2 separate regions of the Homo sapiens genome follow, and region 2 is linked to region 1. Evidence: fine-mapped expression QTL. A gene starts in region 1. The other region holds a variant in brackets. All regions are shown on one strand. Distances are between the middles of the regions. Region 1 holds the start of KHK (ketohexokinase). Region 2 overlaps TRIM54 (tripartite motif containing 54).

The links. PIP is the estimated chance that this variant, and not a neighbour inherited with it, causes the effect. A credible set is the group of variants that fine-mapping cannot tell apart.
Region 2: its variant is the best candidate, but not a certain one, in a credible set for the expression of KHK in spleen (GTEx, PIP 0.83).

The regions. Positions count from the first base shown.
Region 1 is chr2:27,084,856-27,089,240 of GRCh38, reverse strand. KHK (ketohexokinase) reads right to left here and starts at 2,469. Exons shown (of 8, transcript NM_006488.3): 1 at 1,890-2,469. The coding sequence starts at 1,981. EMILIN1 (elastin microfibril interfacer 1) reads right to left here. Exons shown (of 8, transcript NM_007046.4): 6 at 4,233-4,250; 7 at 3,944-4,081; 8 at 2,838-3,563. The coding sequence ends at 3,226. RefSeq lists enhancers at 2,216-2,275, 3,266-3,485 and silencers at 2,466-2,925, 2,976-3,135.
Region 2 is chr2:27,290,754-27,295,138 of GRCh38, reverse strand. All of the region lies in intron 1 of TRIM54 (tripartite motif containing 54), which reads right to left. Among named protein-coding and RNA genes, the nearest start is that of TRIM54, 11 kb to the right of the region's middle. The variant C/T (reference allele first, on the strand shown) is at 2,648.

The sequences.
Region 1 (4,385 bases):
CTCCAAGAGATGGTCAACAGCAAAGGGACAGGGTATACAGGAGATGACAGAGGGCAGGGACCCTGGACTCCACACTAGGAGACTCGAGCTGCAGCTGCCACTGTGCCACCATTTAACTCCGTGGCCTTAAAAAACATCTCCAAATCTTCAGCTTCCTTATCTGTATAAAGGATTTCACTGATCTTTACACAGTTCCCATGGGCTGCTGGGAGGAGAGTATAAAATAATATATGTGATGGTGCTTTGTGGCCCCAAAGCCTGAGGAGTGTCGGGGTCTCTCACCTCAGTTAGCCTGGCAGCCATCAGCACTGTCGTGTCTTTGTGGAGTTCAGTCTTGAACTGCCTCTTATCCAGTTCTTAGCTGCGACAACTGATATAGCCCAGGAGCAATTCTCAGTGTTCTAAGCACTCACTGACTGCACCAAGAGAAAGCTAGTGTCCCGCCCCACAGAAATGCCTTCACAGCATTACAGTGTAATGGTGGGGCCCTTATCAAGAGGAAATACAAGAACCAATAAGCCGGGTGTGGTGGCTCATGCCTGTAATCCCAGCACTTTGGGGGACTGAGACGGGCAGATCACTTGAGATTAGAAGTTTGAGACCAGCATGGCCAACATGTCTTTACAAAGAAAAGCCCTGTCTCTACAAAAGAAAAAAAAAATTAGTGGGGCATGGTGGCGTATGCCTATAATCCCAGCTACCCAGGAGGTTGAGGCAGGAGAATCGCTTGAATCCAGGAGGCGGAGGTTGCAGTGAGCCAAGATCATGCCACTGCATTCCAGCCTGGGCAACAGAGCGAGACTCTGTCTCAAAAAGAAAAAGAACCAACAAATCGGCTGGGTGCAGTGGCTCATGCCTGTAATCCCAGTACTTTGAGAGGCCAAAGCAGGAGGACTGCTTGAGCCCAGGAGCTCAAGACCACTCTGATCAGTATAGTGAGAACCCGTCCCTTATACAAAATTTAAAATACAGCTGGGATGGTGACGTGCATGTGTGGTCCCAGCTACTCAGGAGGCTGAGGTGGGAGGATCACTTGAGTCTGGAGGTCAAGGCTGCAGTGAGCATGGTTGCACCACTGCACTCCAGCCTGGACGACAGAATGAGACCCTGTCTCAAAAAAAAAAAAAAAAAAAAAAAAAAAGAACCAACAACTGACTCTTCAGTTTCTAGCAGACAACTGAGAAAGATATTTCCCACTACTAAACGGTGTTCATTGACCTCTGTGAAAAGGACTTCTGGTAAACTCCTCTTGGAATTTAGCACCAGGAAAAAGCTTGCCAGGGCTCATGAACCAGCTCTATCCATACATAACCCATGGCATCTCATGTTTGCCTCCAGTGCCAGCAAGCCCTGAGCTATAGTTGAAGCTCAAATACCATGGTCTTAAATGTTCTCCAACAGTTTAACTGTACATACTTTTTACTGTAAGCTACCTCAAATCTTTCTCAGAAATAGGTGCGAGATATGTGGATAAATAAGTTAGAAGTAAATGTTGATGAGAGGCAAGTGCATAGGCTTGGGGTTTAAAAAGAAACAGCAGAAGCAGGTAGCTGTGTGCCCCTGGATAAGCCCCTTGGTCTCTGAATCTATACTTATCAGTAAAATGGGGATCCTGATGCCTGACACCTGACACCTGATGCCTGAGTTGAAATGGAAATTGGCTAACACGATGCTATTAAATCCTGGGTCTTCTTATTAAAGGCCTCAATTCCTTCCTCTCTTCTGTCATGCTGGGAGCCCCCCCAGGATTCCCGGGTAGAGGGCGCGGGTCCGGCCTTGAAGCCGGGTTCTCAGGGCCTCACTGCGGGGTCTCTGCAGCCTCGGTCGCTGGCACAAATGCTGGACTGCAGCAGCCCCTGGGGTCCCCTAGGGGACCTGGGCGCCCCTACCTTATCTCCGAGTCCTCCTTAGGGTACTTGTCCACCAGGCTGATGACGTCCAGCACCACTAGCCCCACGCACAGGATCTGCTTCTCTTCCATGAGGCTACTCCCAGAGCTTCCTGCCCGCCCGGCTGACGGGGTTCCTCCCGGCCTCTGCCTCTTATCCAGGAGGATGGTGTCCCCGCTCCCAGCTGCCCTGGCTCCTCCTCCGCGTGGGAGCTCCTCCTCCAGGGAGCCACCTGCAGCGGCCAGGGGTGCAGGGAACGAAAGGAGCAGGGCCCTTCCTCGCGACACCCGAAGACCCGAGCGGGTCTAGGAAAGCCAACCCAGAGGTCTTGGTCCCCGGTCTTCCCGTAGCAGGTTGCCTGGGCCTGCAGATGGCAACGCCTCCCACTTCTCAGCCTTAGTTTCCTCGCTTGTCAGATGGACTCACAGCTGATGCAAACCTTTTTAAAGCGCGGCTAAGCGATCTCGAGAATGCAAAGAGAAAATGCGCTACTTGCCCCGCACTCTCCTGCACCTGCGTCTCCGACTCCCGACCCGGGACACGCGAGGTACAGCTGGGCCTCGCATCTGCAGCCCTGCCTGAAGCCCGCGGTCGCGGCGGCCCCGCCCCGCCCCGCCCCGCCCCGCCCCGGTTAGTCCCAGCCGAGGCCACGCCTCCGCCGCGGAGGAGCAGGACCCGCCGGGTGGGCCGCAGCCTCACGTGGCGGGAACGCAGAGCGCCCCCTGGCGGACGCCGGCGAAACGGGCGTGACACGGGGGAGACGTCGCAGGAGCCGGGCGGGCGCCGCTTGCTGCCTGAGCCAACCCCGAGCCGCCCCGAGCCGGGCGGAGGCGGCGAACGCAGTGCGGAACCCGGGGTCCTCTCCGGAGGCCGTCGTCTCTCCCGCCCCGTGCCCTGTGCACGCCCGGCAGCCCCCGACCCCGTACCGTAGCAGAACGGTTCGTTTAGTTTTTTTTAGAAAAACCAAGTGTCTTTATTCCTCGATCGTTTAGTATGGCGGTGGGCGGCGCCCGCGCGGGGGAGCCTGGAGCCCAGGGAATCGACCTGGAGGGCCAGTGGAGGGAGCGGAGGGTGCGAGGATCGGCTCCTCCGCAGGCCGGCCCTGGAGGGGTTCTTGGGGGATCGCGCCAGGCCAAAAGTCTGCATGGGCGGCCCCGAGCCTCCCTGAGCCGGCGCGCCCCGGGCGTGGGGAGAGGCCGCTCTGGGCGCGGTGCCGCTGCGGGCCCGGGTGCGGCGCTCGCCCAGGGCTAGGTGCCCCGTCTCAGGCGAGACCCCAGGAGCCCGCCGCCCCCGCTGTCTCTTCAGCCGACGTAGACACGTCGGGCGGGACCCCAGTCTACGCGTGTTCAAGCTCTGGGTCCCCATAGAGCAGGGCCCCGCTGAAGATGGTGAGCGGCTCCTCCGAGTGCGCCAGCTGCCCCATGACCAGGTCGACGCAGACCGTGTCCCCGGCCTGCAGCGGCAGGATGAGGCTGAAGACGCCCAGGGTGCCCGGGCTGGGCTGGCTCTCGGCCACCGGCTTATTCTCCAGGCCCTCAGGCTCGTAGCCACCGGAGTCTACGCGGGCCACGCCCTGGTTGGAGCGGGACAGCACGGCCTCCACTTTCTCGTGCCGGTGCCCAGTCAGCACCGCGCTCAGCAAGTAGCGTCCAGCCAGTGGCGCTGTGAACACGCCTGGGGACAAGGATAGCAGTCAGGGGGGCCAGGGAAGCTCCGGGGAGCGCACCAGAACTCCTGGACTGAGGAGGGACCCTCTGGGTCTTTTCACCTCACTGGAATGTGAGCGGCAGGGAACTGGGGGCTTTGTTCACTATGCATTCCCAGCACTTAAAACAGTGCCTGGGCAGGAGCAGGCCCCAGTAAAGATCTGCTGAATGAATGAATGACTACTTCTTCTCCCCACTGCCTGAGAATGAATAAATGAAGAAAGAGCCGGGGTCTCCCCAAATCAGAGAATGAAGATTCACACTGTCGGAAAAGGCAAGAATGGGAAGATATCACTGCACACCTCACCCATTTCTCCAACCGTTCAACCCAGCCCCTCCCAGGACTACCTGTCTCTGGATCATAATAGCCTCCATCATTGAGCAGGACTCTGTCGAAGGGGACCGTGCCTGGTTCAGACCGGGGCAAACTCAGAGCAGCTGAAAATGCCACTTGGGGCACAGGGGCTGCTGGTGCCCCCTCCACTCCTGAGTGGGAAGGGTGGATGTTAAAGGGGATGCTCAGGGCAGAGTGCCAGCCCCCTTCCCCTGCTGGATCCCCAGCCCAGGGCTGCCCGAGGACCTCTATCCTCCAACCCCTAGTCACTTCTCCCTCCAGAATCAAATGAAAGGCACTCACCCTGTTCACCTTGAGGACCTGTGAGAAGAGGAAAGGGAGCAGTGAGAAATAAAGCAGCTCTCACTAAGTCACTCAGCAAACATCTGCTGAGGCTCTCCTGTTGTGCTCGGTGCTACGTGGACTTCAAAGCAGGAATTGGGGTATCAAGAAAAA
Region 2 (4,385 bases), 210 kb before region 1:
AGCCGAGATTGCGCCATTGCACTCCAACCTGGGCGACAGAGCAGGACTCTGTCTCAAAAAACAAACAAACAAAAAAAGATGGTCGAGGAGGTGAACAATCACTCCTAACTTAGTCTACAAGAAATAGAATAATAATGGCTAACATCTACTGAGCCAGGATTTGCTCTAAGTCTTTCATTTGTATTAATTCACTTAATCCTCATATCAACCCTGAAGTAGGTAATACTCTTTTTTTTTTTTTTTTTTTTTGAGATGGAGTCTTGCTCTGTCGCCCAGGCCGGAGTGCAGTGGTGCAATCTCAGCTCACTGCAACCTCCATCTCCTGGGTTCAAGCGATTCCCCTGCCTCAGCCTCCCAAGCAGCTGGGACTACAGGCGCCTGCCACTATGTCCGGCTAATTTTTTTGTATTTTAGTAGAGACAGGGTTTCACCATGTTGGCCAGATGGTCTCAATCTCCTGACCTCATGATCCGCCCACCTCAGCCTCCCAAAGTGCTGGGATTACAGGCGTGAGCCACCATGCCTGGCCCTGAAGTAGGTAATAGTCTTAGCCCCATTTCAAGGATGAGGAAATTGTGTCTCAGTGAAATTAAATAAATTGTACACGGTCATGAGCTAATAGGTGGCAAAGCCAGTACTGGAACTTAGGCACTCTGACTCCAGAGCCTGTCCTAATAATCATTGTGTTCCATTGTCAGACACAATAAAACTTAGGCCAGGCTGTGCACGGTGGCTCATGACTGTAATCCCAACACTTTGGGAGGTCAAGGCAGCAGGATGGCTTGAGTGCAGGAGTTCAAGACCAGCCTGGGCAGTACAGTGAAACCACGTCTCTACAAAAAGAAGAAAAAGCAAGATGGCTCATGCCTTTAGTCCCAGGTATTTGGGAGGCTGAGGTGGGAGGATCACTTGAGCCCAGGAAGTCAAGGCTGCAGTGAGCTGTGATCATGCCACTGCACTACAGCATGGGTGACAGAGGGAGACCTGTCTCAAAAACAAAACAAACAAAAAACAAAACAAAAAAACCCTTAGAGCTAATATTCATTTCTCTGAGTCTCAGGCAGAGGCAGTTTCTTTTACTGTTGTTGTTGTTGTTATTATTGTTGTTGTTGTTTTTGAGACAGAGTCTCACTCTGTCGTCGGGCTGGAGTGCAGTGGCAGGATCTTGGCTCACTGCCACCTCCACCTCCCGGGTTCAAGCGATTCTCCTGCCTCAGCCTCCTGAGTAGCTGGGAGTACAGGCACGTGCCACCATGCCCGGCTAATTTTTTGCATTTTTAGTAGAGATGGGGTTTCCCCATGTTGGCCAGGCTGGTCTTGAACTCCTGACCTCAGGTGATCCACCCACCTCGGCCTCCCAAAGTGCTGGGATTACAGGTGTGAGCCACCTCACCTGGCCGTTTTTTGTTTTTGTTTTTTAAGTAAAAAAAGTAAAAGGGTAATGAAGGAACAAACCTCAAACCTTCACAGAGGAAAGAAACTACAGCCTGAAAATCAACTATGCAACTGTGGACTAAAGCTATTTAAGCAAAGATCAACAAAAGATGACTCATCAAATTAAAACCCTGTGTGCCATGGAGCTCTATAAGGGCCCTGCTTTCAACCAGAATGACCTGTTTGTCTGTGAAATGGAGAGGAAATAGCTCAAATCTCAGGGGAGACCTCCTCCCATGGACCTGTGTGGGCCTCTATGGTAGATAAATCACCGGATTCTGCGTGAAAAATACTCCAAGACAACACAACCAAATTGAGACACTCAACTACCTATTAATTCAGGTCATACCCCTCTATTCACCAAAGAAGGCACAGAACTAAAGAGAGATTGCAAAACCAATGACAACATCCAACCAGGCAGCTTATATTTAAGAGGACAGTGAAAGAAAGCCAAGATAAACACAGTGGGTTGAGTCAGGAATTCACCTTCAGCTCCAGATAAAAGTACCCTGATAAAAGGGGAGTGATAAGCAGACAGAATCCAACAAAAGATGCAAACCAGATAATACAAAAAGAAAAGAAAAAAGAAAGCTTGACAAACAAGGGACAGATACTCCAAGAATCAATACCATTTCGATATACCATTTTAAAAGAAATAACAAAAACAAAGAGATATAAGTGATCAAAACTGGAGAAGAAAAGAGAGCTGGCAGAATTAAGGAAAGAAATCAAGTAAATATCAACACAGAAAAAAAATCCACATTTGACAGGAGAATGGATGATGCTGATAAAAGTCACATAGATTGCAATAGAAATTATCAGCTAAAAGTAACCAGGTCTGCAGTCTGTAACATGGATAAACCTTGAAGACATTATGCTAAGCAAAATAAGCCAGACACAAAAGGACAAATATTGTATGATTCCTCTTAAATGAGGTACCTGGCATAGGATGGATGGTGGTTGCCAGTTGCTGGAAGGAGGGGGAGTAGGGAGGTATTGTTTAAGGGGTGTGGGGTTTCAGTTTGGGGTGGTGATAAAGTTCTGGGGATGGATAGTGGTGACAGTTTCACAACAATGTAAATGTATGTAATGCCATTGAACTGTACATTTAAAAGGTTAAGGTGGTACATTTCATGTTATGTGCATTTTACAAAAATTAAAAAAAATTTTTTGAGACAAGATCTCTCTCTCTGTCGTCTCAACTTCCTGGGAT[C/T]GAGGGATCCTCTCACCTCAGCCTCCCAAGTGGCTGGGACTGCAGGTGTGCCACCATGCCCAGCTAATTTTTAAAAAAAGTTTCTGCAGAGATAGGGTCTTGCTAGTTGCCCAGGCTGATGTCAAACTCCTGGCCTCAAGCGATCCTCCTACCTCAGCCTCCCAAAGTGCTGGAATTTCAGGGGTGAGACCCCATGCCAAGCTTACAATTTTTAGAAAGAAAAAAGTAATCAGGACTTGGGCTATCTTGGCCAATGTCTTCCTTCAAACTCCCCACAGCCAGAACTGACTTCAGGACTTGACCTGAGGGAGGCACACTAACACCACCTCTTCAACACCCTCCCACCTGCCAAAGCAATTTCTTTAGCAGCTCATCGCATTGGTTAGTCATTGCATTTATTCTGGAGCCCAGAAGGCTAAGAGGCATCAGTACTCAGGCAGTCCAACCCAAGTCCTTTGAAAAGTTCCTGTCTTGGGAGAGAGAAATCGGGAGTGTGTGAGCTCAGGGTGCAGGGCGGTGGGGAGAGGCTGCACCTCTGCTTTCCCACCGTCTTGCTCAGGGCTGGTGCTGCTCCCTGCTGCTGACACCACAGTCCCGTATTTTGCGTGTAGCTTTCATCCCCCAGTCCCAGAGTCCCCTCCTGATTCACAAGTCCAATTTCTCCTGCCATATCTCCGTCGGGCCTGGCTGGCTTTCATCTTAATCTCCAGGGCAGCCCTTCCCTTCTGTGATTGCTTCAGCAATGCTAGCCCCCAGCCAAATCCTAACCCCACTTCCTTTGCTAGTCTTTCTGGCCAATATTTACATACATGTGCTTTTTGGCATTAAGACTACATTTGACTTGTAATAAAATAGTAAAATTTATCCTTCAGACTTTCCAGGGCCTCTGGCTCATATTGCTTAGACGCCCTCATTGTGTTTCCCAAAATATGGTATAATACTGATGACAAGCATGAAGATTGGAGGTGGTATGGGGATGGATGTTCAAGATTTTTTATGTGTTAATTCTAATGCATATTAGGAAAAAAACAGTCCACAAAAAACTGACAATTTTTCATGGATTACATTGTATAGAATAAGGATAAAGTAAATATTTAAGGTTTAAAAGTCATTTTTTGTTTGTTTGTTTTTGTTTTGCGACAGGGTTTCACTCCTGTAGCCCAGGCTAGAATGCAGTGGCACGATCTCGGCTCACTGCAACCTCTGCTTCCCGGGCTCAAGTGATTCTCCAGCCTCAGCCTCCTGAGTAGCTGGGACTATAGGCGTTCACCACCATGCCCAGCTAATTTCTTTATATTTTAGTAGAGACAGGGTTTCACCATGTTGGCCAGGCTGCTCTCAAACTCCTGAACTCAAGTGATCTGCCTACCTTGGCCTCCCAAAGTTCTGGGATTATAGGTGTGAGCCAGTGCACCTAGCCTAAAAGTGAGTGTTTTAAAATAGAACTATTAAATTATAGTACAGGTAGTACACAGCTATGGCAAAAATCAGGAAGGTGAAATAAGAATGAAATTTGCTAACCATTTCCTGACTTTCTCTACCAAAATTTGTCTGACTTGTGTTCCAAACCTTTTGCAAATGTTGAGTGGCTACTTTGAGAAAGTCTTCTATACTGGCTATATGGGTCAAATTGTTGCCCCTTATAGGTAACATCTCTGGTTTTTAACAGAAGCATTTAATGGAGCACAATATAGGGGAAGCAGCACAAAACCACAGCAGTTTTAGCAGCCCGTGACTT